Linked DNA regions of Homo sapiens. The protein of the gene in region 6 purifies or fractionates together with the protein of the main gene of each other region. This does not show direct contact. Each region holds a gene or a part of one and is shown on either strand. Other genes may lie near its edges. The genes, in order: FBXO11, CASC3, BAG1, PGK2, YBX2, PRDM5 and ZNF687.

What was found.
Region 1: the proteins of PRDM5 (region 6) and FBXO11 purify together in Homo sapiens (affinity purification with mass spectrometry; 2 studies listed by BioGRID and IntAct, with this or other methods). This does not show direct contact.
Region 2: the proteins of PRDM5 (region 6) and CASC3 purify together in Homo sapiens (affinity purification with mass spectrometry; 2 studies listed by BioGRID and IntAct, with this or other methods). This does not show direct contact.
Region 3: the proteins of PRDM5 (region 6) and BAG1 purify together in Homo sapiens (affinity purification with mass spectrometry; 2 studies listed by BioGRID and IntAct, with this or other methods). This does not show direct contact.
Region 4: the proteins of PRDM5 (region 6) and PGK2 purify together in Homo sapiens (affinity purification with mass spectrometry; 2 studies listed by BioGRID and IntAct, with this or other methods). This does not show direct contact.
Region 5: the proteins of PRDM5 (region 6) and YBX2 purify together in Homo sapiens (affinity purification with mass spectrometry; 2 studies listed by BioGRID and IntAct, with this or other methods). This does not show direct contact.
Region 7: the proteins of PRDM5 (region 6) and ZNF687 purify together in Homo sapiens (affinity purification with mass spectrometry; 2 studies listed by BioGRID and IntAct, with this or other methods). This does not show direct contact.

The regions. Positions count from the first base shown.
Region 1 is NC_000002.12:47,836,382-47,840,655, forward strand, and holds part of FBXO11 (F-box only protein 11), read right to left. Parts: intron 3,389-4,274; coding exon 3,261-3,388; intron 3,120-3,260; coding exon 3,038-3,119; intron 2,623-3,037; coding exon 2,478-2,622; intron 1-2,477. UniProt on the Homo sapiens protein: Substrate recognition component of a SCF (SKP1-CUL1-F-box protein) E3 ubiquitin-protein ligase complex which mediates the ubiquitination and subsequent proteasomal degradation of target proteins, such as DTL/CDT2, BCL6, SNAI1 and PRDM1/BLIMP1.
Region 2 is NC_000017.11:40,157,073-40,161,346, reverse strand, and holds part of CASC3 (protein CASC3), read right to left. Parts: intron 1-4,274. UniProt on the Homo sapiens protein: Required for pre-mRNA splicing as component of the spliceosome. Core component of the splicing-dependent multiprotein exon junction complex (EJC) deposited at splice junctions on mRNAs.
Region 3 is NC_000009.12:33,251,359-33,254,870, forward strand, and holds the end of BAG1 (BAG family molecular chaperone regulator 1), read right to left. Parts: 3' UTR 1,113-3,512; downstream 1-1,112. UniProt on the Homo sapiens protein: Co-chaperone for HSP70 and HSC70 chaperone proteins. Acts as a nucleotide-exchange factor (NEF) promoting the release of ADP from the HSP70 and HSC70 proteins thereby triggering client/substrate protein release.
Region 4 is NC_000006.12:49,785,004-49,789,354, reverse strand, and holds PGK2 (phosphoglycerate kinase 2), read left to right. Parts: upstream 1-2,069; 5' UTR 2,070-2,167; coding exon 2,168-3,421; 3' UTR 3,422-3,695; downstream 3,696-4,351. UniProt on the Homo sapiens protein: Essential for sperm motility and male fertility. Not required for the completion of spermatogenesis.
Region 5 is NC_000017.11:7,291,215-7,296,100, reverse strand, and holds the start of YBX2 (Y-box-binding protein 2), read left to right. Parts: upstream 1-1,461; 5' UTR 1,462-1,600; coding exon 1,601-1,871; intron 1,872-2,562; coding exon 2,563-2,626; intron 2,627-4,041; coding exon 4,042-4,075; intron 4,076-4,524; coding exon of another isoform or gene 4,525-4,569; intron 4,570-4,886. UniProt on the Homo sapiens protein: Major constituent of messenger ribonucleoprotein particles (mRNPs). Involved in the regulation of the stability and/or translation of germ cell mRNAs. Binds to Y-box consensus promoter element.
Region 6 is NC_000004.12:120,779,105-120,783,378, forward strand, and holds part of PRDM5 (PR domain zinc finger protein 5), read right to left. Parts: intron 2,200-4,274; coding exon 2,039-2,199; intron 1-2,038. UniProt on the Homo sapiens protein: Sequence-specific DNA-binding transcription factor. Represses transcription at least in part by recruitment of the histone methyltransferase EHMT2/G9A and histone deacetylases such as HDAC1.
Region 7 is NC_000001.11:151,284,708-151,288,981, reverse strand, and holds part of ZNF687 (zinc finger protein 687), read right to left. Parts: intron 3,777-4,274; exon of another isoform or gene 2,908-3,776; intron 2,708-2,907; coding exon of another isoform or gene 2,691-2,707; coding exon 576-2,690; intron 455-575; coding exon 276-454; intron 1-275. UniProt on the Homo sapiens protein: May be involved in transcriptional regulation.

The DNA.
Region 1 (4,274 bases), on a different chromosome or scaffold from region 6:
TCTTTGAGACATAGTCTATTTCTATCACCCAGGCTGGAGTGCAGTGCCACGATCTCAGTTCACTGCAACCTCTGCCTCCTGGGCTCAAATGATCCTCCCACCTCAGCCTCCCAAGTAGCTGGAACTACAGGCACATGTTACCCAGGCTGGTCTCGAACTCTGGAGCTCAAGTGATTTACCCACCTCAGCCTCCCTAAGTGCTGGGATTACAGGCGTGAGCCACCATGCCTGGCCGAAAATTAGTTTTCCTGCAAAAATTTTCACAATGTAACTGCGTATGAAAATTTGTCCACACAGAACAACAAAAAGTTTCAATTTCCTTACAAACTGTTTACTCAGGAAGGGGAAAAAAAGTTATCCTTACTGTAAAAACATCATGATTATCACTTAAAAAGATAATTTTCTTTCTTTTTCTTTTTGAGACAGAGTCTCACTCCCGTTGCCCACACTGGAGTGCAGAGGCGTGATCATGGCTCATTGCAGCCTTAACCTCCCAGGTTCAAGTGATCCTCTTGTCTTATTTTTTGATTTTTTTTTGTAGAAATGAGGTCCCAGTATGTTGCCCAGGCTGGTCTCAAACTCCTGGGCTCAAGTAATCTGCCCACTTCAGCCTCCCAAAGTGCTGGGATTATAGGCGTGAGCCACTTCGCCTAGCCTAAAAAGATAATTTTCAGTAAAAATACTTTGAACTTAATTTGTCCTATATCTTCAGTCCATTTATATCCTATCAAGCACAATGAAATCTTCAAACTGGAGTAATGGCTAACTATTATCATTTCTGGTACAGTGAGCAATGCTGTTTTGTTCTGCTGCTCTTCATTCTCATTTCTCCTTTGTAATTTTTCTCTTAAATGTAAGGTGTGGGCCGGGCACAGTGGCCCATGCCTGTAATCCCAGCACTTTGGGAGGCCCAGGCAGGAGGATCACCTGAGGTCAGGAGTTCAAGACCAGCCTAGCCAACATGGTGAAACCCTGTCTCTACTAAAAATACAAAAAATAGCTGGGCATGGTGGGAGGTGCCTGTAATCCCAGCTACTCAGGAGGCTGAGGCAGGAGAATTGCTTGAACCCGGGAGGCAGAGGTTGCAGTGAGTCAAGATTGTGCCACTGCACTCTAGCCTGGGCAACAAGAACGAAACTCCGTCAAAAACAACAACAAAAACATATATATATATGGTGCACCTTTTGTGCATCATAAAAGTAATACATATAACCGTTGTAAAACAAAGAAGTGTAAAGAACTATAGTTTCAATATATTAACTATTAACAGTCTGCCATATTTGCTTCCACTCATTTTATCTACAGATCATTTATTATAGTTGTGATTATATAGCATATACAATTTTGTACTCTGTTCTTTTCTTTAAAAAACAGGGTCTCCGTCTGCCGCCCAGGCTGCAGTGCAGTGGCACGATCACGGCTTTCTGCAGCCTTGACTTCCTGGGCTCAAATGATCCTCCTGCCTCAGCCTCCGGAGTAGCTGGGACCACAGGCAGGAGCCACCACACCTGGCCTCTTTTCACTTTTTATAACAGCATTTTTTTCATCTTATTAAAAACCTGGGCTGGGTGCAATGGCTCATGCCTATAATCCCAGCACTTTGGGCGGCCGAGGTAGAAGGATCACTTGACCCCAGGAGTTCAAGATCAGACTGAGTAACAGAGTGAGACCCTTTGTCTCAAAAAAAAAAAAAAAAAAAAAATTAGCTGGGCATGGTGACACATGCCTGTGGTGCCAGCTACTCAGGAGGCTGAGGTGGGAGAATGGCTTGAGCCCAGAGGGTTGAGGCTGCAGTGAGCTAGGAGCGTGACACTGCACTCCAGCCTGGGTGACAGAGCAAGACCCTGTCTCTCAAAAAACAAATGAAAATCTCTTTGTAAAAATTACTATTAGTGGTTATATCACAACTCTCCAAGTACACATTACACAGTTTATGTAGTTCATTCCCTTAATTCTGGATATTTAGATTATTTATAATTTTTCTCATTATTAACTAGGCTGTTACGAAAAATCTGTACATAAAGCAAAAAAAACTTTTCAGAAGTAGAATTACTGGGTCAAAGGGCATGACCCAGTAATTACTGGGTCAAAGGGCATGAATTATTTAAAGATTCATGAATACAACTGTTTTCCAAAAGTGATATATAAAACCTACATTCTAATCTATCAGATTTAAAATTCATTAGCTATTTTAAATTACACTGTTATGTTTCTAAAAAGCTACTAAAAGAAAAACATTTCCCATAATCAATCAGTTGCTATTAACTGATAAACAGCAGATAAAAGACTTCATTTACTGATTTATAAATACCACCTGGACTGACAGCCCCCATTTGTAACTTGGAATTGATAAGCATTTTAATTTTGTTCCAACTAATTGTAACTACCAACTCACCGCACCGACTTTCCTACCATGTTTAGCATTTTGGGCAACAAATAACATATCTCAAGTTAATAAGGAATAGGTTTTTACTTACCACAAAATTGGATCATTAGCAAGTTCACTGAAGCGTTTACATACACAAGCTGCTCTACAAAGATCCTGTTCCAGCAAGTAAGAGAAGATTTTTAGAACCACTTCATCTGGCAGTTTCTCCTGAAGATACTGTTCAGCAGGTGCTGCTATAAAGAGATTAACATATAAACTATCATTCGAGCAATAACTTTCTCATTATTTAAAGAACACAGTTTTCATTTTATCTAATGAATAGCTTTTTTTTTTTGGATAATGGTCATTTTATAAGCATGTGGGTTTCATGGGTAACACATATTTATCTCTATCCTGAACTAACAAAAGTACTCCTTCTTTTAGGTATTATGTGCCATCTCAGAAATGGTTAAAATAAATACATAAAAAGCATTTTTATACAACAATAAAAGTCAGAGGGAGAGGTCAGGGTTCTAAAGTTTATTCTGTAATAATCACTTTCTGAATCCCAAAGGTAATACTCGAATACACTTAATTTTCATTTTTTGGTATCAAGCAAAATTAAAAAAAATTATTTTACCCTATTTGTTACTTTCCCACAGGAAATACCTGATAGATCTTGTGATTTTCCAGACACTCTTGCACGTTTTGCACGATGACCAAAGTTTTCTGTAGTTGAAGTTGAGGCGCCCTTCAAAAACAAAACAGAAACTAGTAAAGCAAATATTCTTATCATCCATAATCATTACTTCTAAAAAAGGATGACATTCCCTTTTTTGTTTCTTGAAAATTCTTTCATTACAAAAAGAAAAGCAACTACAGTTAAAGTTACCTCCATACTGTTCTTTGTGGGACACGCTGTTCTTTTCGGCAAAAGAGTTTTTCTACGAAGTTGGTATGGACTATTTTGTGCACCAGGACCTGATTCTTCTGCAACCATATCTGCAGGCACATCATCATCTGTTATAAACAAAAGCAATAAGAAAAATTATACCCTTTTTAAAAAAAGTTCTATGGATACAGAAAACTTTCTTAAAACTTCAAATTCGGGAGGGAGCAGATGTAAGTTTTATATGAAATTCCAACCAACTGGATAGCTATATGAAAGAAATGTTAGATTTCTATAAAATGTGGAAGATTTTTTTTTTTTTTGAGACAGAGTCTCGCTCTGTCGCCCAGGCTGGAGTGCAGTGGCGCAATCTCGGCTCACTGCAAGCTCCGCCTCCTGGGTTCACGCCTTTCTCCTGCCTCAGCCTCCCGAGTAGCTGGGACTACAGGCGCCCGCCACCACGCCCAGCTAATTTTTTGTATTTTTAGTAAAGATGGGGTTTCATCGTGGTAGCCAGGATGGTCTTGATCTCCTGACCTCGTGATCCACTCACCTCGGCCTCCCAAAGTGCTGGGATTACAGGCGTGAGCCACCACGCCCAGCCGTGGAAGACTTTTTTTTAAAAAAAGGTGAGGAGGATATCCACTTGCTGAGAGGAGTGGGAAGGGAACTGGTACTACATGGTTAGAGACCATATATGGTGAAGGCAGCTTGGCAAGGAGTGTGTCTATGAAGAGGAACGGCTCAATATAGTGCATGAGATACCAGGTAGGTTAAAAAGGGTGTCAGAGGGTAGTCTGGTGTATGAACATCTTTTTTTTTTTTTTTTGGAGATAGGGTCTCATTCTGTCACCCAGGCTGGAGTGCAGTGGCCCGATCACAGCTCACTGCAGCCTCAACCTCTTGGCCTCAAGCAATCCTCCTGCCTCAGTATCCCAAGCAGCTGGGGCTACAGGCATGCACCACCACCCAGCTAACTAAAAAACAATTTTTTTTGGTGAGATGGGGTCTCACTAT
Region 2 (4,274 bases), on a different chromosome or scaffold from region 6:
CAACATAGAACTGAAAAGCAAACAAATCAATATTCTTACCCATATTTCTAGAAAATAAAGATCCTATTTTGGCCTGGCACAGTGGCTCACGCCTGTAATCACATTTTGGGAGGCCAATGCAGGCAGATCACCTGCGGTCAGGAGTGTGAGACCAACCTGGCCAGCATGGCAAAACCCCATCTCTACTAGAAATATAAGAATTAGCCGCACTTGGTGGTAGGCACCTGTAATCCCAGCTGCTCGGGAGGCTGAGGCAGGAAAATCGTTTGAACCAGGGAGGCAGAGCTTGCAGTGAGCAGAGACTGCGCCACTGCACTTCAGCCTGGGCGACAGAGCAAGGCTCTGTCGCAAAAAATAGTAATAATAAAAAAAAGACACTATTTTAAAAATATCACATTAAAAAAAATACACACATACATACATATATATCCACATAGGTATTCCTGGAACATATGCAAGAATTATTAAAAGTGGCAGGCTGGGCGCAGTGGCTTACACCTGTAATCCCAGCACTTTGGGAGGCCGAGGCAGGCGTATCACTTGAGGTCAGGAGTTCGAGACCAGCCTGGCCAACATGGTGAAACTCTGTCTCTACTAAAAATACAAAAATTAGCCGGGAGGCGGAGGTTGCAGTGAGCCAAGTTTGTGCCACTGCACTCCAGCCTGGGTGACAAAAGCAAAACTCCATCTCGAAAAAGCAAAACAAAAAAACAAAAAAACAGCGGCAGCCTCTAATGGGCCCAGAGGATAAGAATGGAAGGGAGACTTACTATACGATACCTAACATATAAGAGGAGCTTAATCTTCCTTGATAATCTCTCTCTCCATGAATTATCTTTTTTTTTTTTTCTGTTTTGAGACAGGGTCTTGCTCTGTTGCCCAGGAGTGCAGTGGCACAATCATGGCTTACTGCAATCTCAATCTCCTGGGCTCAAGTGATCCTCCCACCTCAGCCTCCCAAGTAGCTGCGACTACAGGCACATGCCACCACACCTGGCTGATTTTTTTTTATTTTTAGTAGAGACGAGGTCTCGCTATGTTGCCTAGGCAGTTCTCAAACTGCTGAGCTCAAGCAATCCTCCTCCCTTGGCCTCCCAAAGGGCTGGGATTACAGGCATGAACACTGTACCTGGCCCATGAATTGTCTCTTAAACATGCAGTGCCTAATAACTATACTTTGACGTAAGTTGTGAACTCTCCCATCTCAAAATGGCTTAGAGCAGAAATTCCCAACCTTTTTGATTATGCGGACCCCTTTTTAGGATCTAAAAATTTTCATGGATCCCCATGAGATATTCACTGAGAAAACATACAATGACAAACAACTGCTAGGCTGGATGTAGTGGTTCACGCCTGTAATCCCAACACTCTGGGAGGCCGAGGTAGGTGGATCACTTGAGGTCCGGAGTTTGAGACCAGCCTGGCCAACATGGTGAAACCCTGTCTCTACTAAAAATACAAAAATCAGCCAGACATGGTGGCATGAATTTGTAATCCCAGCTATTTGGGAGGCTGAGGCAAGAGAATTGCTTAAACCCAGGAGGTGGAGGTTGCAGTGAGCCAAGATTGCACCACTGATACTAGTCTGGGCAAAAGAGTGAGACCCTGTCAAAAAAAAAAAAAAAAAAAAAAAAATTCGCCAGGAATGGTGGTGTGCGCCTATAGTCCCAGCAACTTGGGAGGCTGAGGTGTGAGATCATTTCAGCCCAGGAGGTAGAGGTTGCAGTGAGCCATAATTGTGCCACTGCGCTCCAGTCTTAGCAACAGAGAGAGATCCTGTCTCAAAAAAAAAAAAAAAAAAACACACAATGAACTGATGCGTGCGTGCCTGTAGTCCCAGCTACTCAGGAGGCTGAGGCGGGAGAATCACTTTAACCTGGGAGGCAGAGGTTGCAGTGAACCGAGATCGCACCACTGCACTCCAACCTGGACAACAGAGACTGTCTCAAAAACAAACAAAAAACAACAAACTGTTATACATTCAATAACACTTTAAGTTTACATTTTATTAATTTACATATATTCAAAAATAGTAGTACATAAGGGGGGAGATGTATATTTTAGTCTATAGATAATGAGAACTGAATGAGTAGACATGCAACTCTTTTTTGAGACAGGGTCTCACTCTGTCGCCCAGGCTGGAGTGCAGTGGTGTGATCTCAACTGACTATAGCCTTGACTTCCTGGGCTCAAGTAATCCTCCCACCTCAGCCCCCACAAGTAGCTGGGACTACAGATGTACACCACTATGCCCAACTAATTTTTGTATTTTTTGTAGAGACAGAGTTTCACCACATTACCCAGGCTGGTCTGAAACTTCTGAGCTCAAGCGAACCTCCTGCCTCAGCCTCCCAAAGTGCTAGGATTACAGGCATGAGCCACTGCGCCCAACCAGATGTGCAAACTCTTGATAATGACTCCATGATTTCCCAATGCACTTATCCTCAAGCTGGAAAATGGTAGCTTTTTTTAATGCCTATGAGTACTGGTTTTCTGCAGCAGAAAATTCCTGCAGCCAGAACATATCCAGAATCACATAATTACAAAAATTTGACCTAAAAAACCTTAAAGGACAACTTGTACAACCATCACATTTCAGAAATGAAAAAAATTAGTCCAAGTGCTCTCTCTCTCTTTTTACTATCTTCTTCCCTCTTTTACCACATCAAGATTGGGTAACACTGTTCATGACACAGAAAGTGCTGGGTCTACACACAAAGGATCATTAGGCCATTAGAAAGGGCCAGGAAATGGACGTGTGGCTAGTTCTAGGTAGGAAAAGGCAGCAGCTAAGGCTCATGATAAGGGAACTGGCTTTAGAATAGGGTTACTCTCCTCTCCTTGTCCTCCCCAGATTTGGACCTAAGGAGGCAGAGCTATGGCTAGGGAGGCCTACGAGAACACAGAGAAATGGGTTCAAGGAAAGGTGGTCTAGTCTTCATTGGTGGGTTACATCTGAAACCTGGTAGATGTATGTACACTGGTCTCTCACTCACCTACTGGGTCTGATACTTGAACTGAACCAGACTGCCCTGTCACTCAAGACCCAGGCTGGCCCCAATAATCTGGTCAAAGAGGCTCAACATGAGATTCCTGAATTCCTGATTGAGAAACTCTCAAACTCTAAGTTTCTGCCATCTCTTCAAATAGAGCTGAGTCAGCCTGATTGGCCCAGACAAGCCAATTAATCCCTCTTCCTCATTTTTCCCTGCTCAGCATCTGGGTATAGTTGACGCTGGAACAAGGGGTTTGAACTACTCAGGTCCACTTCTACGCAAATTTTTTTTCAATAGAAGTTGCAGCAAGTATGCCTGCCTCTCCTTCCACTGCCTCTGTCACCCAAGGCAGCAAGATCAACCCCTCCTCTTCTGAAGTCTACTCAATGCAAAGATGATGAAGACCTTTATGATGATCCACTTCCACTGAATAGTATGTTTCCTTAATAGTGAATGATTTCTTAATAACATTTTCTTTTCTCTAGCTTCATTGTAAGAGTACAGTACATAATACACATAAAATATAAAATACATATTCACTGACTGTTTATGTTATTGGTATGGCTTCCAGTTGACTTAGTAGTTAAGTTTTGGGTGAGTCAAAAGTTATACTTGGAATTCTTACTGCAACAGGGATAGGTGTCCTTTATATTTTATTTATTATTTATTTATTTTGGAGACAGAGTCTTGCTCTGTCGCCCAGGCTGGAGTGCAATGGCGCGATCTCAGCTCACTGCAACCTCCACCTCCTGGGTTCAAGCAATTCTTATGCCTCAGCCTCCTGAGTAGCAGGGACTACAGGCGTATGCCACCACTCCCAGCTATTTTCGTACTTTTAGTAGAGATAAGGTTTCACCATGTTGCCCAGGCTGGTCTCAAAGTCCTGAGCTCAGGCAAGCCGCCCACCTCGGCCTCCTGAGGTGCTGGGATTACAGGCATGAGGCACCACGCCCAGCCCCTTTTAATTAATTAATTAATTAATTTATTTATTTATTTATTTATTTATTTGAGACGGAGTCTCGCTGTTGTCCAGGCTGGAATGTAGTGGTGCAATCTCAGCTCACTGCAAACTCTGCCTCCCAGGTTCACGCCATTCTCCTGCCTCAGCCTCCCGAGTAGCTGGGACTACACGCACCCGCCACCAAACCTGGCTAATTTTTTGTATTTTTAGTAGAGACGGGGTTTCACCATGTTAGCCAGGATGGTCTCGATCTCCTGACCTCGTGATCCACCCGCCTCGGCCTCCCAAAGTGCTGGGATTACAGGCGTGAGCCACCG
Region 3 (3,512 bases), on a different chromosome or scaffold from region 6:
CTTTTGACAAAGGTCCTGACTACTATATGAAGGAGTCTCAGAAGAGGTAACCTTTAAGTTGTGCCTTGAAGGATAAGTAGAAACCATTAACTAAATAGACAATGTCGAGGCCGGGCATGGTGGCCCACGCCTGTAATCCAATCACTTTGGGAGGCCAAGACAGACAGATTGCTTAAGCTCAGGAGTTCGAGACCAGCCTGGCCAACATGGCAAGACCCTGTCTCTACCAAAAACACAAAAAATTAGCCGGGCATGGTGGCACGCACCTGTGGTCCCAGCTACTCGGGAGGCTGAGGTGGGAGGATCGCTTGAGCCCAGGAGGTGGAGGTTGCAGTGAGCAGAGATCAAGCCACTGCACTCTAGCCTGGGCAAGAGAGCAAGAACCCATCTCAAAAAAAAACAAAAACAAAAAACAATGTGGGAGAATCCTTCCAGCCCTGAGGCCGAAGAATTCGTTTGTGGGAGCACACATTCCCATCTGTTCTCCCTGTGGTAAGACTTACCATGTCCCAGGCAAGTGGGCACCTGAGAAGGGGTGCTCTCTCCCCTTCTCACGGGAGAAGAAGGGGTGCTCTCTCCCCTTCTCACGGGAGAAGAAGGGGTGCTCTCTCCCCTTCTCACGGGAGAAGAAGGGGTGCTCTCTCCCCTTCTCACGGGAGAAGAAGGGGTGCTCTCTCCCCTTCTCACGGGAGAAGAAGGGGTGCTCTCTCCCCTTCTCACGGGAGAAGAAGGGGTGCTCTCTCCCCTTCTCACGGGAGAAGAAGGGGTGCTCTCTCCCCTTCTCACGGGAGAAGAAGGGGTGCTCTCTCCCCTTCTCACGGGAGAAGAAGGGGTGCTCTCTCCCCTTCTCACGGGAGAAGAAGGGGTGCTCTCTCCCCTTCTCACGGGAGAAGAGTTTCACAGGCAGAAACCCCTTGGGTGAGCAGATCTGCGTGGGTGGGGCCTGTGCAATCACCTATCACATCTGCCCAGCAGTCCATGCATTAGGGCCTCTTTTCTCAACCCTTAAGACAATAAAGGCTGTTAAGGCTGTAAATTCCAATGCTGACGGAGATTCTGAGGCCAAATGCAGCTATAGAAGTTTCACTATTGATGTGTGCATTCAACATTCATTTGTTCTCCAAATATTTATTGAGGTCTTACTATATACAAGACTATATAACAAGTTATGCTTGTTATATATGTTATATATGTTATGTTATATATATATATGTTATATATGTAATATAACTATATTACAAGTTATGCTTGAAATAATGCTGTTACCAAGATAAAGAAGCTCCTTCACCCAAGGAACCCTGGTGTTAAAGGCAAAGATTAACCAAATAATCCCACAAGTAAACTATCATGGACTATGTAAATGCTGTGAAAGAAATGTATGGGAAGTCGAGAGAGGATCCCACCTGGGGGCTGGACAGGGTCTCAACACAGTAGGTGAGGGTTCTCCATGCAAGAGACATGTGAGTTGAATTCTGAAGGATGAACAAAAGTCACCTATACAAGGGTAGGGTTGGAGGAAGGAAGGTGAGGAGCTGTTCAAGCAGAGGTAGTAGCAGGAGCAAAGACCCCCAGGCAGGAGAGGGTGCAGTGCATCTGAGGACCTGAAAGAAGAGTGGCTGACAGCAGACAGCCAACAAATGAGGGGGTTGAGATGAGATGGGAGAAGGCATGGGGTAAAGACTTTTGCCTAAAGAGAAAGTGAGCCATTGGAGGGTTCTAAGCAGGGGACTGACATGGCAAGATTTGCACTTCATGATCACTCGGGCTGCTCTAAAGAAAATGAACTAGAGCAGAGAGGAAGTGGGAGCTAGAGGGAGAGGCAGAGGACAAGAGGAAAAAAATCAGAGAATGGGCCTGTGCAACCCTGTGTTGGTTGAGAGGCAGTACAGTAGAGGGGAAAAGCACTGGCTCTGAAACCAAACCACCCAGCTTTGTGTCTTGGCTTTGCCGCTTACTCTACAACCTTGCGCTAATGACCTAAGTTCTCTTGGTTTCCTCATCTCTAAAATAAGGATATCTGTCTACCTCTCAAGTTATGTAAGAATTAAATGACTAATATATATGAATAGTTTAGAATGGTGTTCGGCAGTTTGGTGCACAGTAACTTCTCATTAAATGTTGTGGCCCACGCCACACAGCTATCACACAAAAATAGATCAATAGTGAACCACTCTGATTAAAGTTGGGGTGCGGTGGGCTGGGACCCGAGCCTTGTCCACAAGTCTACCTCTACTACCTTGTCTGAGGTCTTAACCTGCCCAGTCCTGAATTCCTGGGACTTCAACGACTCTCTCTCTGCCAAATGATGTGAGTCTTTAGGTAGAGTTATAGCGCAAAGGGCTACTATCAATGTTATTAAGCATAAATTATGACTAGAGCCACAGAATGATTTCCTCATTAATCCAAAAAAAAAAAAAAAAGCAAACCACTCTTCTACTTTATGATGAGCACATAAACAGTTTTTTTTTCTTTTTATTTATCTACTTTTACTTACTTAAATTTTAGAGATGGGGTCTTGCTATGTTGCCCAGACTAGACTCAAACTCCTGGGCTCAAGTGATCCTCTAGCCTCAGCCTCCCAAGTAGCTGGGACTACAGGAAGGAGCTACTGCACCTGACTCAATTTTTTTTTTTTCTGAGATGGAGTCTCACTCTGTGACCCAGGCTGGAGTGCAGGGGCGTAATCTCGGCTCACAGCAACCTCTACCTCCCAGGTTCAAATGATTCTTGTGCCTCAGCCTCCCCAGTAGCTGGGATTATAGGCACATGCCACTACGCCAAGCTAATTTTTTTTTTTTTTTTTTTTAAAGCAGAATGGGGTTTTGCTATGTTGCCTGGGCTGGTCTCAAACTCCTGGCCTCAAGTGATCCGCCCGCCTCAGCCTCCCAAAGTGCTGGGATTATAGGCATGAGCTGCTGCGCCAGGCCTTAATTTTTTAAAAACAATGATGGGGTGGGGGTGGGGGACAGTCCACAAAATGGATAGAACAGCTGTGAAGGAAACATAGAACTCAGAAGGATATGGTTAACAAAAATGCCTTTGAAGGAAGCACATGTCACTCCTGAGAAGTTTATGGTTGGCTTCACCACCTGCCTGCTTTACTCATTCTGGTGCCTTCTCTTTGCCCTTCCTAATCCATGGCTCTGGCCTGGTTTCAAGCACAGACTCAGTCAACACTGGGTTCTAACCTTCTGAAGACTTGCTTGGGGACAAGGAAGCCTTGCATCAACCACAGGCTCCATCCAAGGAACGGCCCCCTGGTATCTCATGGCCTGTGGCTAGTCAGGGTCACTGGGAGGTGAGGACAAAGTCTAGAACCCAACAACCCAGCCAGATGCTCTGGAATTAGGTCACAATGAGGGATAAGTGGTCTACTTATGTGCCAAACACCTTGTTCTAGGCCATTCCCAATATTCCTGACTAGGTGCAACCTCCTGGTGATTCTGGTTTTACAGCTATGGGACTACACGATCACAAGAGCAAAGAAGCCCTCATGTATCTGAAGACTGAGG
Region 4 (4,351 bases), on a different chromosome or scaffold from region 6:
AACTAGAGTATTATATTTATGGACAGCTGTTTTTGTCTTTAGTTTTACAAACTGAAAACCTCTTTTGCAAAGTTACTTAAGTCATTTCCTTTTTTTGTCCACATCACCTGTAGTAAAATTTCCACATCACATGTAGTAAAATTTCCTATATATTACGATACAGTTAGGCTTATCTGTCAGAGGCTACATTATATAATACGATTCCCTAACACTCTGGATCATATTTTTTATTTGCATTCATTAAAGTTTACTCTCTACAACGTACGATTCTATGAATTTTGACAAGTGCATAGAATGTTGTATCCACCACTCCAGTACCTCATAGAAAAGTTTACCACACTAAAAATCCTCCTGTGTATCCCCATTATAGTTGACCACGCTCTCTTAACCTGTAGCAACCACTGATATGTTTTCCATCCCTATAGTTTTGCCTTTTATCAAATGTCATACAAATGGAATTATACAATAACTACAAAATTTTTTTGCCTGGCGTCTTTCAGTTAGTAAGGCACATTTAAGTTTTATCCAGGGCTTTTGTGTAAGTAAATAGCTTGTTTCTTTTCTTTTTTTAAAAAATAATATTCCATTGCATGGATATATCACAGTTTATTTATTTATTACTTGAAGAATATACAATTTTGGTAATTATTAATAAAACTGCTCTAAACGTTTGTTTACAGAAGTTTGAGAGAATACAGGTTTTTGATGTCCTTGGATGAATATCTAGAAATAGGATTGATGACTTGTATGGTAAGTCTATGCATATTTCTAAGAAATTGCCAAGCTGTTTCCCAAAATGTCTGTAGCATATTTCATTCCTGGGAGCAACAAATGAGAGTTTCTGTTACTATATATTTTAACACCATTTAAGTTTGCTTTTAAATGCTGTTGACTCGATGTTCAACATTGAGGAACCGATAAACTGTTTTTTAAAGTGGCTGCACCATTAGACATTCCTATCAGCAATAAATGAGGATTCCAATTTGTCCACTTCTTTCTCAACACTTGTTTTTATTTTTTATTTTAGCCATCTTAATAGGAGATGCCTCAAATATATTTCTGTCAAAGCCTTCATTTTACATATTTAGTTCACTCAACTTATGGAGTAGAATGAAAAAAACTGTAAAGCCAATTTTCATTACTAAACCAACTAGCCACATACATTTGCTTTCTCCAAAAATAGAATATCTTACTCACTTTCAATTCTAATATATGTTTTCATCTTCATGAAAACCATGCATTTATTTTTCAGCTCAATTTCTAAGTTGTACAGGTAGGAAAGCAAACAGAGAGGAGACAAAAAATAAGGAGCCTCATCATAACATTGTAGTCTGAAAGAAATGTCACCATTACTTTCAGCACTTGTTACTGATACTCTCTTTGCTATGATCTTATGGGATTCTCCTGCAGAAGTGACCAAACATTCTTTCATGGTAGTCTGAAAATGGAAGAAGCAAAGTAATGAAAATATGACAGCATTCCCACCACGTCCCAGAATAGATCTAAAGATGAAGACTAACAACAAGCCACATCCTCAAAGAAATATTTATCAAGACAAGGAAAAAACAGAACTATACTATCCTGACTTGAATAAGCAAGGTTTCATATGAAAATCATTATTTCAAATATTCCTTTTATTTGGCACTGCAGAGGTTTTTACATATCAAAATGGTTAAGATTTGACATGAATGAGGTGTATGTAGGTTTGCGGGGGTGGGGGTGGAGTTCTTTTTGTTTTGTTTTTAATAATAAAAGCAACTGTTAACCGAGCTGTGGGGTGGGGGCAAAAAGAGCCAGAAGGCGGCGCACACCTCAGGACTATTCTTGTTTTTTTAGAACCATTCTTATTCTGGGGTTTCTTCACCTACCCAAGTCTCGCCTGAAGCCAGGTACAGCTCTATTCCACTACATGACCCTCTGCCCAGGAAGTTGGAATCTTCACCTAGCAACACAGTTCAGATCGAGATTGACAGGACCATGAGCCAATCACAAAGCTAGATTTGCTTTCCAGTCTAACAGTGGCCGTTGTGCTGGAGACAGTGAGGAGAAGAAAGGGGCGGGACAAGGGCAAAGGCGTTAGAAGTCACCACCGACCCAGCCCCTCAACAGCAAGTTGGTTCTTCAGCATTAAGATCCAGGTGTCAGCCTATGTCTTTATATTGTCAAGATGTCTCTTTCTAAGAAGTTGACTTTAGACAAACTGGATGTTAGAGGGAAGCGAGTCATCATGAGAGTAGACTTCAATGTTCCCATGAAGAAGAACCAGATTACAAACAACCAGAGGATCAAGGCTTCCATCCCAAGCATCAAGTACTGCCTGGACAATGGAGCCAAGGCAGTAGTTCTTATGAGTCATCTAGGTCGGCCTGATGGTGTTCCCATGCCTGACAAATATTCCTTAGCACCTGTTGCTGTTGAGCTCAAATCCTTGCTGGGCAAGGATGTTCTGTTCCTGAAGGACTGTGTAGGCGCAGAAGTGGAGAAAGCCTGTGCCAACCCAGCTCCTGGTTCAGTCATCCTGCTGGAGAACCTGCGCTTTCATGTGGAGGAAGAAGGGAAGGGCCAAGATCCCTCTGGAAAGAAGATTAAAGCTGAGCCAGATAAAATAGAAGCCTTCCGAGCATCACTTTCCAAGCTAGGGGACGTCTATGTCAATGATGCTTTTGGCACTGCACACCGCGCTCATAGTTCCATGGTGGGAGTGAATCTGCCCCATAAAGCATCCGGATTCTTGATGAAGAAGGAACTAGATTACTTTGCTAAAGCCTTGGAAAACCCAGTGAGACCCTTTCTGGCTATACTTGGTGGAGCCAAAGTGGCAGACAAGATCCAACTTATCAAAAATATGCTGGACAAAGTCAATGAGATGATTATTGGTGGTGGAATGGCTTATACCTTCCTTAAGGTACTCAACAACATGGAGATTGGTGCTTCCCTGTTTGATGAAGAGGGAGCCAAGATCGTTAAAGATATCATGGCCAAAGCACAAAAGAATGGTGTAAGGATTACTTTTCCTGTTGATTTTGTTACTGGGGACAAGTTTGACGAGAACGCTCAGGTTGGAAAAGCCACTGTAGCATCTGGCATATCTCCTGGCTGGATGGGTTTGGACTGTGGTCCTGAGAGCAACAAGAATCATGCTCAAGTTGTGGCTCAAGCAAGGCTAATTGTTTGGAATGGGCCGTTAGGAGTATTTGAATGGGATGCCTTTGCTAAGGGAACCAAAGCCCTCATGGATGAAATTGTGAAAGCCACTTCCAAGGGCTGCATCACTGTTATAGGGGGTGGAGACACTGCTACTTGCTGTGCCAAATGGAACACTGAAGATAAAGTCAGCCATGTCAGCACTGGAGGCGGTGCCAGTCTAGAGCTTCTGGAAGGTAAAATCCTTCCTGGAGTAGAGGCCCTCAGCAACATGTAGTTAATATAGTGTTACTTCCTTCTGTTTTCTGTCCATGGCCCTTAAGTCAGCTTAATGCTTTTACATCTCGATGTGACTTTTGTTAAAATCTACTCCTAGATCAAGACCTATGTAATGGACAAGCAGCAGGCCATCAGGAACTCTTAATATCAGCACAGCAATTCATTTTAGTTTGGTCACGCATTTGCCTGTTCAAGTTCTCATTTGAACTTCACCATTGTGCTATCTAGGGAGGACATATTCTTAAGTTGCCTATTAAAGAAAGTGAGCTGAAGAAACTGAATCTTTTTATTTTAGTCCAACTTTGCTATTGTTTCATAATTTGAAACCCAAAAGATAAAACTTAATTTGTTGGGAAAGGGTGGAATGAAAGTTGACAAACAAACAATAAATATGCCCAAATAAACTGAGAAAAATAATTACATATAAAGAACTCATGGGTACCATTAAAGTTCTGCTAAGGGGAAATGTTATACTAAATAGGACCAAAAAAAAGAGAAATGAAAGACACTTATTAAACCCAAGGAATTTTTAAAAAGAAAAGAAATTAAACTCAAGGTAAGAATTATGTTTGTGTGCATATCAATGCACAAGATTACACACAAATGCCAGCTAGAAAAAGAGCTACAAGTTAAACCCAAGTTGTAAATAAGTAATTGTTTTATTTTTAAGGCAGGCATTATTTAATAAATAGATAATATAACTGGTAAGTTCTAAAACTTGGTTTTTGAGATAAATAAAATATATATACATAGCTGGTTTAATAATGGGAAAATAGAGATAAAAATTCTCTATTAGAAAACAGAAGATAAAATGATAAGAAATGTAGAAAAAACAAAAACACTTATTGGAAAATATTTTGCTTTATTCTGTAGACAGAGGTAGTTTAGGGCAATGCTATTAACAAGAATAGTAATTAAGAGTAAAAAT
Region 5 (4,886 bases), on a different chromosome or scaffold from region 6:
GAAATAAAATAAGCAAATGGTCAGGATCATGTCATATTTTCAAAAATGCCATTAGAAAAATAAGGAATGGTGTGATGGCGAAGAGTGGCACGTAAGCTGCTGCTTGGAGAGAGCCACCTGGAGACACGAAGGCGCGTTTTCGGCAGAGGAAACCGCATGTGCAAAAGGCCTCGAGTCCGCTGGAGCTTGACGCCTGGCCGGAGACCACAGCCCCCGGCATACAGACGTGAGAGACCCCAAAGCCAGTCTAGGGCGGTAGACATCAGAGCTGCAGCGGTCGGTATGGGCCACATGGGTGGACACATTGATCAAAACTCAGCGAAGGCCGGGCACGGTGGCTTACCCTGTCATCCCAACACTTTGGGAGGCTGAGGCGGGCGGATCACCAGAGGTCAGGAGTTCGAGACCAGCCTGGCCAATATGGTGAAACCCCATCTCTACTAAAAATACAGAAATTAGCCAGGTTGTGGTGGCGCAAGCCTGTAATTCCAGGTACTCAGGAGGCTGAGGAGGGAGAATCGCTTGAACCCGGGAGGCAGAGGCTGCAGTGAGCCCAGATCGCGCACTGCGCTCCAGCCCGGGCGACAGAGGGAGACCTTGTGTCAAAACAAACAAACAAACAAACTCAGCGAAGAAGAATTGCGCATTGTACTACTTGTAAACCTTGTTTCCAATACAAACATAGGTAGGGGCAGGCCGGGAGCCACCTTGAGGTGGCTCAAGGCAGGAGAATCGCTTGAACCAGGGAGGCGGAGGTTGTAGCGAGCCGAGATCGCGCCACTGCACTCTAGTCTGGGCGACAGGGCGAGACCCTGTCTCAAAAAAAAAAAAAAAAAGAAAAGAAAAGAAAAAGAAAGAAAAAAGAAAAGTAGGGGGTCCTGGCTCATGGGAGCAAGTGTGAGCCGGGAAAACCATTCTGCTGCGCTTTCCAGCCTATCCTGCGGTTGGATCCCGCAGCCCCAGGGTGTGCAGGGCCGTCCTGTGGGGAGAGGGTGCCAAGGGCGGTGGTGGCCGGAAGGCGTCTGCACCTGGCAGCATACGGGCAAGGTCGGTCTCGAGGGTGGAGGCGAGCGGTGCTACTCACTGCCAGAACCGAGGCTGCAGATTCCCGCCCCTCGCTCAGGTCGTTAGGGGCAACCTTGGCACTGCGGCCCCGGCCCCGCCCTTCCCGCAGAGGCCAGGTGGCGGTTGGGGCGCGACCGGCCCGTTTGATTTCCCGCGGCCGGTGGAAAGGGGCGGAGGGGGGAGGGGAAAGGGGCCGCCGGCCAATGGGTTGGGCCGGGGGCCGTCACGTGGCGGCCAGGGGGCGGGGCCCAGGTGTACTTACTGGGCGGCTGGCGGGGGCCGGGGCCGCGGTGCGAAGTCCGGGAGGCGGGGTCGGCGTGCGGTCCGGGGGTGCTGCTGGGCTGGGATTGGCCCGTGGTCGGGAGGCGGGGTCTGCGCGAGCGGCGGCAGCGGGCTGCCATTGGCCTCGGCTCCGGGCCCGCTGCCGGCGTGTGGGCGAGGCTCGGGGCGCGAGGACCGAGCAGGGCGGTGGGTTCGCGAGCCGGGGGGAGGGGCCGGGGCGGTGGCGGCTGTGGCCGGTACTGGACCCGGCGGGATGAGCGAGGTGGAGGCGGCAGCGGGGGCTACAGCGGTCCCCGCGGCGACGGTGCCCGCGACGGCGGCAGGGGTGGTAGCGGTGGTGGTACCGGTGCCCGCAGGGGAGCCGCAGAAAGGCGGCGGGGCGGGCGGCGGGGGCGGAGCCGCCTCGGGCCCCGCTGCTGGGACCCCCTCGGCGCCGGGCTCCCGCACCCCTGGCAATCCGGCGACGGCGGTCTCGGGAACCCCCGCCCCCCCGGCCCGGAGTCAGGCGGACAAGCCGGTGCTGGGTGAGGGGCAGGCGCGCACAGGGCGGCTCTGAGGGGTCGGCGGGCTGGGGGAGGGGCAGTGTGGAGCCCGGCAGGATCCGGAAAACCAAAGGCGGCCTGGCCCGCAGGCCCAGAGCGCTAACTGGGCTGGGAGCTGCGCACCAAAGTGGATTCCCCTGGTGGGAAATCCTGCCGTACCTTCCTGGGAGAGAGGGCGGGGCCGGCAGGTTCAGCTAAGGTCTTGGGGTGGAGAATAAAGCCCCAGGGTCCGGCCACGCCCCCGGGCGGGACACAGTGCCTAGTTGACTGGGTTAGAACTAGGCAAACCTCTGAGCCTGGCAAGCAGGTGCACTGGGGACCCTTGCATTGGGAGGGCTAGAAAAACCCTCAGTTATGACCTGGGGGCGGCACTTTGCAGACCAGGTGAGTACCCAGTTCTAGGTGAAGGGGCTGGATTTGTAGGATGTGGGGAACGTGACTTAGAGTTGGAAGGCTTTTTGAAAGCCTGAGTCCCTGTGTGGGTGATTTCATTTGGTGGACTAGGGTAGGAATACCTTGAAGCTACTAGTGAAACCTGGTTGGCTTGAAGGTAACCTGAATAGGTAATAAGGCAGTAGGCTAGATTTTTTTTTGTTTTGGAGTGTCTCAAAACTGAGTTCAACTCCATCTCTTCCCCCCATCTCACTGTCCCCACTGCATCTCTGCCTGGCAGCAATCCAAGTCCTGGGCACTGTCAAATGGTTCAACGTCCGGAATGGTTACGGATTCATCAACAGGTATCCAAGGAACCCAGGGCGGGGGTGGAATGGGTGTCTTCCCAGCTGGCCTGTGGGACTGGACACCCGCCCAACCTCATCGACCCCTGCGGAGGCACATGGTTGCAATGTCCAGCTGATGCTGGTTGAAAGCCTTTAACCGCAGCACAAATGTGTGCTTCGTGACAAGAGGAAGCCTCCTCCGCATCTTCAAGGGTAGCGGAGGATTAATGATTCAGGAACTTGGCAAACCTGGCTCTGACCCTGCCAGCTTCTCATCTCACCTTCTGGAATTGCTTCATTACTTTTACTCTGACATGCCTTTGGGGCAGAATGTATTATAGGGTTCTCTGTGCCTCAGGGCCCCCGGCTGGAATCCTCAACTGATTTCCTGTTATGGCAGCACTCACAACTCAACTCCCTTAAAGAGCTGTGGCTCATTCGAGCCCTCCACCTGTTGGGACTGAGGCTGACAGTGGGGGTCAGGAGGAAGGAGCCAGAGGCTGCTGCTTTCCTTCAGTAGGCAGCCCCACCCCTCAGCACCGGGAGAGGCTGTGGCAGTGGATTCTGAGCAGAGCCAGGTCTCCCCCAGTGGGCCCTTCCCCAGCCCAGGCATCCTGCCCGGCCTGGCTCTCCTGGGAGGCCCTAGTTCCCTCTTAGCAGGCTGACCTTTGTGCAGATCCAAGTGCTTTAAAGCTAAAACGTTTGTTCTGGGGAAGGGTCCCTGTCTAATTCTGGAAATGGCAGACTGGGTCGGGGGCAGAGTGCCTCCAGGAAAACTTTTCCTTTCTCCCCTCCCCCCACCCACTGGGGTTCTTATGATAGAGAATGGGTGAATGTTTTCTTCTCTCTCACCCTTGGTCCCACGCGTGTTGAGAGTGGTCCTGACTCTGGGATTCACCTCCAGGCTGAGGATGAGAATAAAGTTTGGCAGCTGTTTAGAGCAAGTTCCTGACACATTGTTCCCTTCTCAAACTTGTTCTGCCCCTCTGGCCCCATCTGCACTTTCTGCCTCCTTGACTATAGAAGGAAGAAGACTGGAATTTTCCAACCCTGATGGGGGTTGGGGGAGGGGGTGTTGGCCAGGGACAGTTGCACCCAGCGCTGGCAGGTTGTAAGGCTAGCCTGGGGTGGAAGGTGGAGTCCCGGCAGGGGCAGAGCTGTCTGAGGTTCCTCAAGGTGCCTTTGCCTCCCCAGCCTGCCCTTTCCTTGTGAAGTCCAGGTTTGGCACTGAGGTTTTAGGTGTATCTCTCTTTACACCAGCTTCTGGGGGCCCTGCTGGCTCTCCCTCCCATTCCCCAGGCCATGTCCACCCCTAACTGGAATGCTGGAGAGGATGGGCCCACTGAGCTTAGACTGGGCATCTAGGGGGACCTCAGTGAGGAGCTGAGGGCTTTGTTGAAGTCCCTTCCTTAACGACCCATCCTGTTCTGCAGGAATGACACCAAGGAAGATGTCTTTGTTCACCAGGTAAGAGCTAGGTTAGCTTTCTGAGGGGAAGAACCGGCCGTCTTTGAAGGCCTTTGCTGTAATCCTTAGCAGTGCGCTCCGCCATGTTTCTCTGGCTCTTCTTCACAACGGCCCATCCGCCTTGGGTGCCTGTGTCAACCACCATTAGCCGCACTTGTGCTGGGTTACTAAACGTCCGTCAGAATTGAGCATGTTACCCCTGGGCATGGCACGCTTACTACCCACCGGGACCTGTTAACACTCCAGGAAGCACTGAGGCAGTTTTCAGAGGGAGAAGGTCCTTGGGTGCAGTGGTTCTCAAAGCGTGGCCCCTGCACCAGCGGCAGCAGCATCACCTGACATCCGAATTCTCAGGTCCCACCCCAGACCTGGTGAATCAATCAGAGCTGGGGCTGGGGCTCCACAATCGGTTTAACGAGCTCTCCAGGTGATTCTGATGCACGCTACAGCTTGAGAACCACTGCTTGGTGGAAAGAGCTCTCACTGGGACTGAGGTAAGAAGCACAGTGCATTCTACCCACTTTGCGACTGAAGGCTGTCCCTGCCTTTTGCTTTGGAGTTCATATTTCTTGCCTCCCTTTCTGAAATCCCTGAGGGGTAAAGCGGGGCGGGAGGGGAGGTGCGGGGAGTGCATCCTGGGGATGGTGGTAACTGCACAATCTGCTGAGGCCCTGAGTTCAGGACTTTTCCCCTGCTAAACTTTGACCACCTCCTTGCTCCACCCTCCAGCTCTAGACCCCAAGTCAAATGTTGAAAGAATGAAATTGGGTGGTGGCCCCAGCAGGGGTGACAGAGACTCCTGTCTTGCTGT
Region 6 (4,274 bases):
ATTGGTTCCAAACTGAAGAAGTTCCAAACTAAAGGATATTAGGGTTATATTAATGAAAAAAATTAAAATATTCCTTTCACTTAACTCAAAAATATATCTATTATTAGGTTCCAATTTTGGTTAGCTAGTTTCAAAAGACATTAAAGGTATAATACTAAACTACCTTAAATATGAACAAGAAAGCATGGAAACAGCTCACTTTAAGAATACTGAATAAATTTATGAGATTAAAATGAGCAACACACTATGAATATACTGTGTGACTATTATTGCAGACAAAGTAATCTCTCTTGAAAGCTCACTATACTTTTCCTTTATTTATTGAAAGTCAACAAAAAATGTGTTAAATTCATGCAAAAAGTAATTAAAGCAAAGAAAGTTGAAAGACTAGTTTATTCAGAGAGCTAAAAACACCAGATAATATCATTATTACTCAGCATTAAAAATACAGGAACCCATATGCCCTAGATGTGATTATTATACACTGAATACCTGTATCAAAATACAATATCTCAGGCTGGGCACAGTGACTTATGCCTACAATCCCAGAACTTTGGGAACCCAAGGCGGGCACATCATTTGAGGTCAAGAGTTCAAGGCCAGCCTGGCCAGCATGGTGAAACTCCGTCTCTACTAAAAATACAAAAAATTAGCCAGGCGTGGTAGCAGGCACCTATAATCCCAGCTACTTGGGAGTTTGAGGCTCAAGAATTGCTTGAACCCAGGAGGCACAGGTTGTGGAGAGCGGAGAGCCGAGATGGCACCACTGCACTCCAGCCTGGGTGACAGAGTGAGACTCTGACTCAAACAAACAAACAAACAAACAAACAATATATATATATAATATCTCCTGTATATAACTATATCTACTATGTACCCATAAAAATTAAATATTAAAAAAATACAGGAAAAGAAAGTTACTCAATTCAATCCTTTTGAAACAGTTGTATTAAGGACAGATAAGATAGATAGATACTGAAACAGGAGTTATTTCTTCACATTCATTCAGTATCACACACTAATGGCAGAAAACTACCATACTTCATGGTTACTTCTAAAGTTAACACTGCCTGAGTGCAGTGTCTCATGCCTGTAATTCCAGCACTTTCAGAGGAGGATAGCTTGAGCCCAGGAGTTCAAGACCATCCTGGGCAACATAGCAAGACCCTATCTCTACAAAAATTTTAAAAAATTATCTGGGCATGGTGAGACATGACTAGTCTCAGCTACTCGGGAGGTTTCAACAGGAGGATCACTTGAGCCCAGGTGTTCAAGGATACAGTAAGCTATGATGACACCACTGCACTACAGCCTGGGCAACAGAGCGAGACTCTGTCTCCAAAATAAGGAAAAAAGTCAACATTAAAACCTTTAAGTGTATTTGTTACAATACAAATTTTACTATTTAAAATATATACTTTAAAACGCATTATTGAGCACGTAAAAAATAAACTTGATTCCCTTGAGGTAATGACCCAAGTAGCATAAGACACACACAAAAAAATCTCCAAATCACTATATGAACATTTTCTTTGAGTTAAGCAAGTATTTATCGAGTCCCCATTCTGTACCAGAAACTTCCCTATGCTCTAGAGAGGTAAAGATCAAAGCCTATCCCAATAACAAAAGGGTTCAGTCTATTAACTTGCCAATAAACATAAGAATTCACTTTGAAATATAAAATTATTAAAGTACTACTCATATTTCTTAGAAAGAAACAGCCTACATTAATTCAAAAATATATAAAAATTGATAAGCTCCTGCTCATTGAGTACTTTTTAGAAGCCATCTATCAGCAAAGCTATGGGTTATGAAGAGTCTACATCTAACTCAGGTTCTCATTCATGGAAAAAAATAGGTCTATCCTGAAAGATGAAGAAAGTGAACATTGTCTGAAGAGCTGATATAAATCATGCATTTGTCATTTTGAGTAAATATTTTGATAGATTAATATATAATTATCACATGTTAGTTAACATATATACCCATACTGCTTAAACACGTAATCTGTTCAAACTAACAGAAGACTTCCACTTACTTTCTTATGACTTCTAAGCACTGAAGGTGTAACAAAGGCCTTATTACATAGCTCACACCTATACTTCTTGTGTCTTTCATGAACCACCTGGACATGAACATTTAATGTATCCTTCCTCTTAAAGGTAGCATCGCAGTGATGGCACTTGAAAGTCCTCTCACCTTAGAAACAAAGAGAAACATTTAAGAAGCAATAGCAGGGTCCTATTAATTTCCTCCCATGTATGCCAGACTTAGTTGCTTTCTCCAAAATGTTGGCTTTGTAGCTCTAAGAATGTTAACTTTTTATTTTTTACAACAAATTCCAGTTCCATTATTTGCTAATTCACTGTGTGACTAGGCAGAAGTCCTTTCATCTTACATCTTCAGTCTTCTCAACTGGAAAACGTGGGGACTGAATTAGCAGAATTCTCAAAGTTACCATGAACATTTTTTAAAAGTATGTACTTCTACAGCGGGGGCTGGGATTTGAGGTAAATAGACTCCAGTGACACAAGACCTCTGTCAAGCAAGGTGAGTTGCCTTTGGGCCCCTCCCAAAGTTCCCTCAAATCCCACCACGGTCCCTATAACCTCCTGTGAATAGATAATAGGCAGAATTGGATTGTAGGTAGAGAGCTGAGGAGGAAAGCCTCTGAGGGCAGAGGGTGTGCATCAGAGCTCAGGCCCTCCCATTCTGGGAGAGGGAAAGTTACAATGCCCCTGCTTCCTGGACTGGAGGCTCCCTGATTCAGCCCTTGGGCAGTTGGAAAAAGTCTCCAAGGCTTTGAGGGATGGGGTCTTTCAGAGAGGAATTAAATTGGGATAGCAAGACTATTAGCCACCCTGGGTATTTCACTTTCTTCTCATTATCCAGCCTGGGGCTGAGGGGAAAGCAACCTCAGAAAACATATATAGAAATCTTATGGTACTTTCTAACTTTCATATAATGCTATTTTTATAGTTCTTCTTAACACATGGGCCTAAGTTTTAGTGGCCATTTTAAATACAATTTCAGCAATGAATGTGTGCAATGAGAACACGATGTTTAATAACAATACGGTATAAAATGTATGTAGTATGTGACTATATAAATAAGACAGACTAGTATTTGAATATAATTTCCCTTTTTAGAAAACAATCATATTAACATAGATTCCCATATCATATTGATAACAAGGCAAAATTAAGAATAATTAAATTTCTATATCTAAATAAGAGATTATCTCAATTTTAGCCAAGCTCTTCTAAATTCCTTCCATCATAACTAGCACTAAATTTAGAAATATGAAGACTCTATTATTTCTTCACATGAAAGGAAGGAAGAAAGGAAGGAAGGGAGGGAGGGACAAAAAGAAGGAGAAAAGGAAAAGAAAAATTACCTTCTCTTTGTCTTTCTAAATAGAATTATCCCTCTCTAACTTAAAGTCTCTTAGAGTCCTTTTGAAATTTAATGTCTGAAACAAAGTCACGTCCATACAATGCATGAACTATGTGGATTCTGAGAGCTTGGTTTTTTGTGTGTTTTTGTTGCAGAGTATTATTCTTATACACTATCTTTATACTTTCTGTTTTATTTAAACATTCTGTTTGTATAAGTTGTATAATCAGTGATAGCATAAGGAAATATCAATTGATAAAAGACTGTAAACATTAATGTTAATATCAAATCGATTCAGGTACTGAAAGAGATCTTTTTAAAAAAACCTCTAAGATTGTTCCTATCAAAGCATTTTCATTAAACTATCAAGTGAATAAAAATGTTGGTCCCTGTACAAAATCTCATCAAGCTATAGCAAGGAAGTTCTTACCTTCCTTCTTTCATACTTTAATTGCAGATTTCTTTGTGTTAAATTTATCAGATTTTTTCCCTATCTTAGTACCTACAAGCTAGCCAGCAACTTGCCTTTTGGTTTTCAACATATTGGGAAATAGCAACAATTTCCAAAATCATTACAAGTTATTCTTCACATTTTGAGCCAGAAAGCTGATGTAAGTTTCTAACAACAGCTTTCATATTTTAAAGTTAAATAAATGGGTTTTAATTTTCATATTGCATAAGACGTAGTATTTTGTCCTCCCTATTTTAGCCATTTCTGGTTTTCCCATTCTTTTCACTAACTGATATCTAACTTTATTTCCCTAAAATAACTCATTTACTCACTCAGTTATCAAAGTTGATTTTCCTGGCCAAATGTCACGATGCATCTTCATAAAGCCTGTGATTAATGTGCTGATCAACATCATATTAAATACATA
Region 7 (4,274 bases), on a different chromosome or scaffold from region 6:
GGAGCATGAGCAGGGTGGAGAAAGGAGAGAGGTGCAGAGGCTGTGCCCCAAGGGAGGCTGCCAAGGGAGAGCTGGAGCTCCAGAGGTGGCCCTGCTTCCCCCCATCTCCATGGGGGACGACGGGAAGGCAGGACGTACTATCTCAGGGTTGAGTCTGGCAAAACAACAGGGCTGAGGGATATAGCAGGGAAGATAGGGGATCTTGAAAGGCCATCTGAGGCTGAGGCTAGGACACACGAAACCCTACAGTTCTATGGAGGAAGGGTCCGAGGCACCTGTATCCTACACGGCGAGAGACGTGCAGACAGGCCTCCCGGAGATGGGTCTGAAAATTGGCTTGCAGGAAGTTGCCCCCACACTCAGGACAGACATGGGGGGGTCGATTCTTATGCATGCGCTGGTGGGCGCTGAAGCTGCAGCGATTGGGGAGCATCATGGGGCAGGTTGGGCACACCTGTCGAGTGGGTTAAACAAGGAAAGTCGGTGAGGAGTGTCCTGTCTCCATTACTTCTAACCAAGCCCCCAACGCCTTCCTAGATCCTGTCCCCACAGAAGGGCTGTGAAAGGTGACTCACATTGCTGGTGGCCCCAGGGGCAGGGGGGCCGAGCTGCTGGAAGTGAGCTGCCATGCCAGCCTTGTCCCGGCACTGTTCCTTGCACTCCAGGCAGCGAAAGCATGTGTAAGCAGAGGTGGCCGGGGCAGCAGGCGGCTCTGTGGAGAGCGGCAGGACAGGGGCCTCAGCAGCAACTGTAGTAATGGCAGAGGAGGTGATGGCCCCCTCACCCTTGCCCAAGGCAGGCAAGGCCAGAGGTCCAGAGACAGGTGGGACAGCTACAGGCAGCAGCGGTGTGATGTCCGGCTGCCCCACCATCTGGTCAAGGGCTACAGGCCTCATGACCAAATGTGAGCACTGCATGACGAGCCCCTTGTCCTTGTGTTCACGTGCATGCAGGAGCAGGCTGCACTTGTTGAAGAAGACCAGGCGGCGGGCGCAGTGGTTGCAGGTGACCTCGATGCGCATGCTCCGACGGTCATAGTGCCGTGCCAGGCTCTTCTCCAATGAGAAGGCATCCCCACACTCCAGGCAGCGGTAGCCGGTGGGAGGCAGGGCCAGCCCAGCCTCAGCTGGTGGGCTCAGGTTTGGCCTATAGGCAGGGAGCAGGTTCTTGCTGTTGAGGATCTTGTTGAAGGCCTCCACCAGGCTGGACTGGGTCCGTGATATCACTGTGCCGCCCCCTGTACTTGGCCCAGTAGCTGTCTTTGAAGGTTGCACCATCACCACCGAGGCACCATTCACCTTCTGTCCCCCAGTCCCCAGCCCTGCCCGCCCGTCAGCCTTAGGCAGGGCTTGGGGCACCAGGCCTAGCACGTTCTTAGCAATCATCTTAGGGCTGGTGGCAGTCCCCCCAGGCAGCACCACAGCCTTGCGAGCCACACTGGCTGCCATCAGCATGGCAGTACTGGCGTTCTGGATGGTGGCCACAGGCAGCACAGTGCCTTTCAGCCTTGTACCATCACCCAACTGTACGCTCACCACCTTTGGACCCTCAGAAGTAGGTGTTGCAGGGGACAGCTTCAAGAGGCTAGCCTCAGCCAAGAAGGCCCCCTCAGCCAAGGGGGCAGGTGGATCAGGATCTGAGGGGACCTGAGTTACAGTCCTTGTGATATTCCCGCAGGATGTTTTAATGGTCTTGATCCGCACCTTAAGAGGCCTAGAGGAGCTGGAGGCAGGGGAGTCATTGCTGTCCTCATCTGCAGCCTCGGCCCCACTAGAGGGACTCTGGGGACTTCCTGGGGAAGACTTGTCCACTGGCCCCTCATCATCATCTTCTTCCTTCAAGGGCTGACAGACGGGCACTTTGGGGGAGGCAAGAGGGCTCTGGTGCCCTGGAGACTGCTTGAAGAAGGGCACCCCAGCAACTGGGGGAGGCGAGGCACTGGCAGGGATGTCCGTGGCCTTAGGGCTGGAGCCTGAGCCTTGTTGGGCTAGGACCTGGGGATGATGGGGGCTGCAGCTCTCCTGCTTCAAGGCCCCCAATGGTGGGGAAGAAACAGGTGGCTGCATGCCTGGGCCATTCTCCTGGGCCAGCTCAAAGGAAGAGGGGAAAGGAGGCGGGGTCAGAGCCCCCTCCCGAGTGGGAGAGGGTGCAGAGGGAGGCAGCGGATCTGAGTGGTCCCCTGGCTCAGGGCCAAAATGAGCAAACAGGTCCAAGGGAGTTTTGCCTTCCATGCCTTTTTCTTTCCAGGTGCCCCCACTGGGAGGAGCAGGAGAGTGGGGAGTTCCTGGGAGGGAAGGTTCAGGGCTCCCAAAACCATTCTGCATTCGATGAGGCCCCACAGGCCCTTCTTTAGTTACCCCAGCAGCCTGGGCCCCGTCTCCTGCTGAGCCTCCAGCCAGGGCCTCAGACTGCTCGGGACACACAGTGTTCTTGACAATGACACTGACTACAGAAATGTCTGGCGGTGGCAGGCCATGGTCAGAGGCCTGGGCTGGAACTCCAGGGCCATCCCCAGCAGAGGCTGCTGCTGTGTCTTCAGATTCACTTCCTACACCTGGTTCTGGCTTCCCTGGGCCTCCAGGCCCCTCATTTTCTTCTGGCCCAGAATGGATGGCTTCATTCGCATCAATGTCAGGGATGTCAAAGGCAGCAAGGAGGTCATCAAAATCAGGGGTCTTCATATCCCCCATATCGGCAGATCCCAGACCTGATGAAAACAGGAACGAGGAGGAGAAACTGAGATGTCTAGAAGAGAGATCCTGGAGCTCTTCCCTCAGCATCTCCATATTTATCCTCTCTCAGAACCCACATACACTCCAACTTAGGTACACCTCCGCCACGGCATGAATCCTACAGAGCTGCTAGGTTTGCCAAACCTTAAAATCAGAAGAGGATTAGTGTCCATACCTTGGTGGGCTCCAAAATCCAGAGAAAGCAGGGGAAAAGAGAGTTCTTAGAAATACAGGGAAGGGGCCAGGTGCGGTGGCTCATGCTTGTAATCCCAGCGTTTTGGGAGGCTGAGGCAGATGGATCACTTGAGGTCAGGAGTTTGAGACCAGCTTGGCCAACATGGTGAAACCTTGTCTCTACTAAAAATACAAAAAACTAGACAGGTGTGGTGGCACATGCCTGTAATCGCAGCTACAAAGGAGGCTGAGGCAGGAGAATCGCCTGAACCCATGAGGTTGAGGTTTCAATGAGCCAAGATCACGCCACTGCACTCCAGCCTGGACAGAGCGAGACCCTGTCTCAAAAAAAAGAAATATAGGGGGCTGGGCATGGTGGCTCACGCCTGTAATCCCAGCACTTGGGGAGGCAGAGGCGGGCGGATCACGAGGTCAGGAGATCAAGACCATCCTGGCCAAGATAGTGAAACCCCGTCTCTACTAAAAATACAAAAATTAGCTGGGCATGGCAGCACACACCTGTAGTCCCAGCTACTCGGGAGGCTGAGGCAGAAGAATTGCTTGAACCTGGGAGGTGGAGTTTGCAGTGAGCTGAGATCGTGCCACTGCACTCCCACCTGGGCGACAGAGCAAGACTGTCTCAGAAAAAAAAAAAAAATACAGGGAACAGGGAAGGGTAATAGAGCTCAGTGAGCATTCTGGTGGAAACCATCTCATCCCCTCCGGTCCCCAGCATAGAACCAAATAATCAATACTATTATTAAGGAGGATGATGTACATGATGTTCTAGGTTTAAGGACTCATTCATGTCCGCATGGAATCAATTCATATTCTTCACGGATCTTCTGGGGTCCACACAGATCTGAAAGGCTGCATGTACAAAGGGACAATGCCATAAGCCAAGACTTAAGAAATGATCCTCGTTCAGCTTTATCAGGGGCGTGCAGTACAAGCAAGTTTCTTCAGTGCCTTACTTTTGCTGTTTGAAAGAGGACACAAATGGCCGGGTGTGGTGGCTCACATCTGTAATCCCAGCACTTTGGGAGGCCAATCACTTGGGCCCAGGAGTTCAAGACCACCCTGGGCAACATGGTGAAACTCCCCAGGCATGATGGCACGTGCCTGTAGTCCCAGCTATGCCTCCCAGCTGACATGGGAGGATCCCCTGAGCCCGGGAGGTCGAGGCTGTGATGGGCCATGATCATGCCACTGCACTCCAGCCTGGGTGACAGAGTGATACCGTCTCAAAAAAAAAAAAAAAAAAAAAAAAAAAGACAAGACAAGGCAGAGAGCACAAGTGATCTATGTATCATAGGGTTATTCTGAGCATAATACAAAATTGCTAATGTAAGAATCCCACCAAGAATA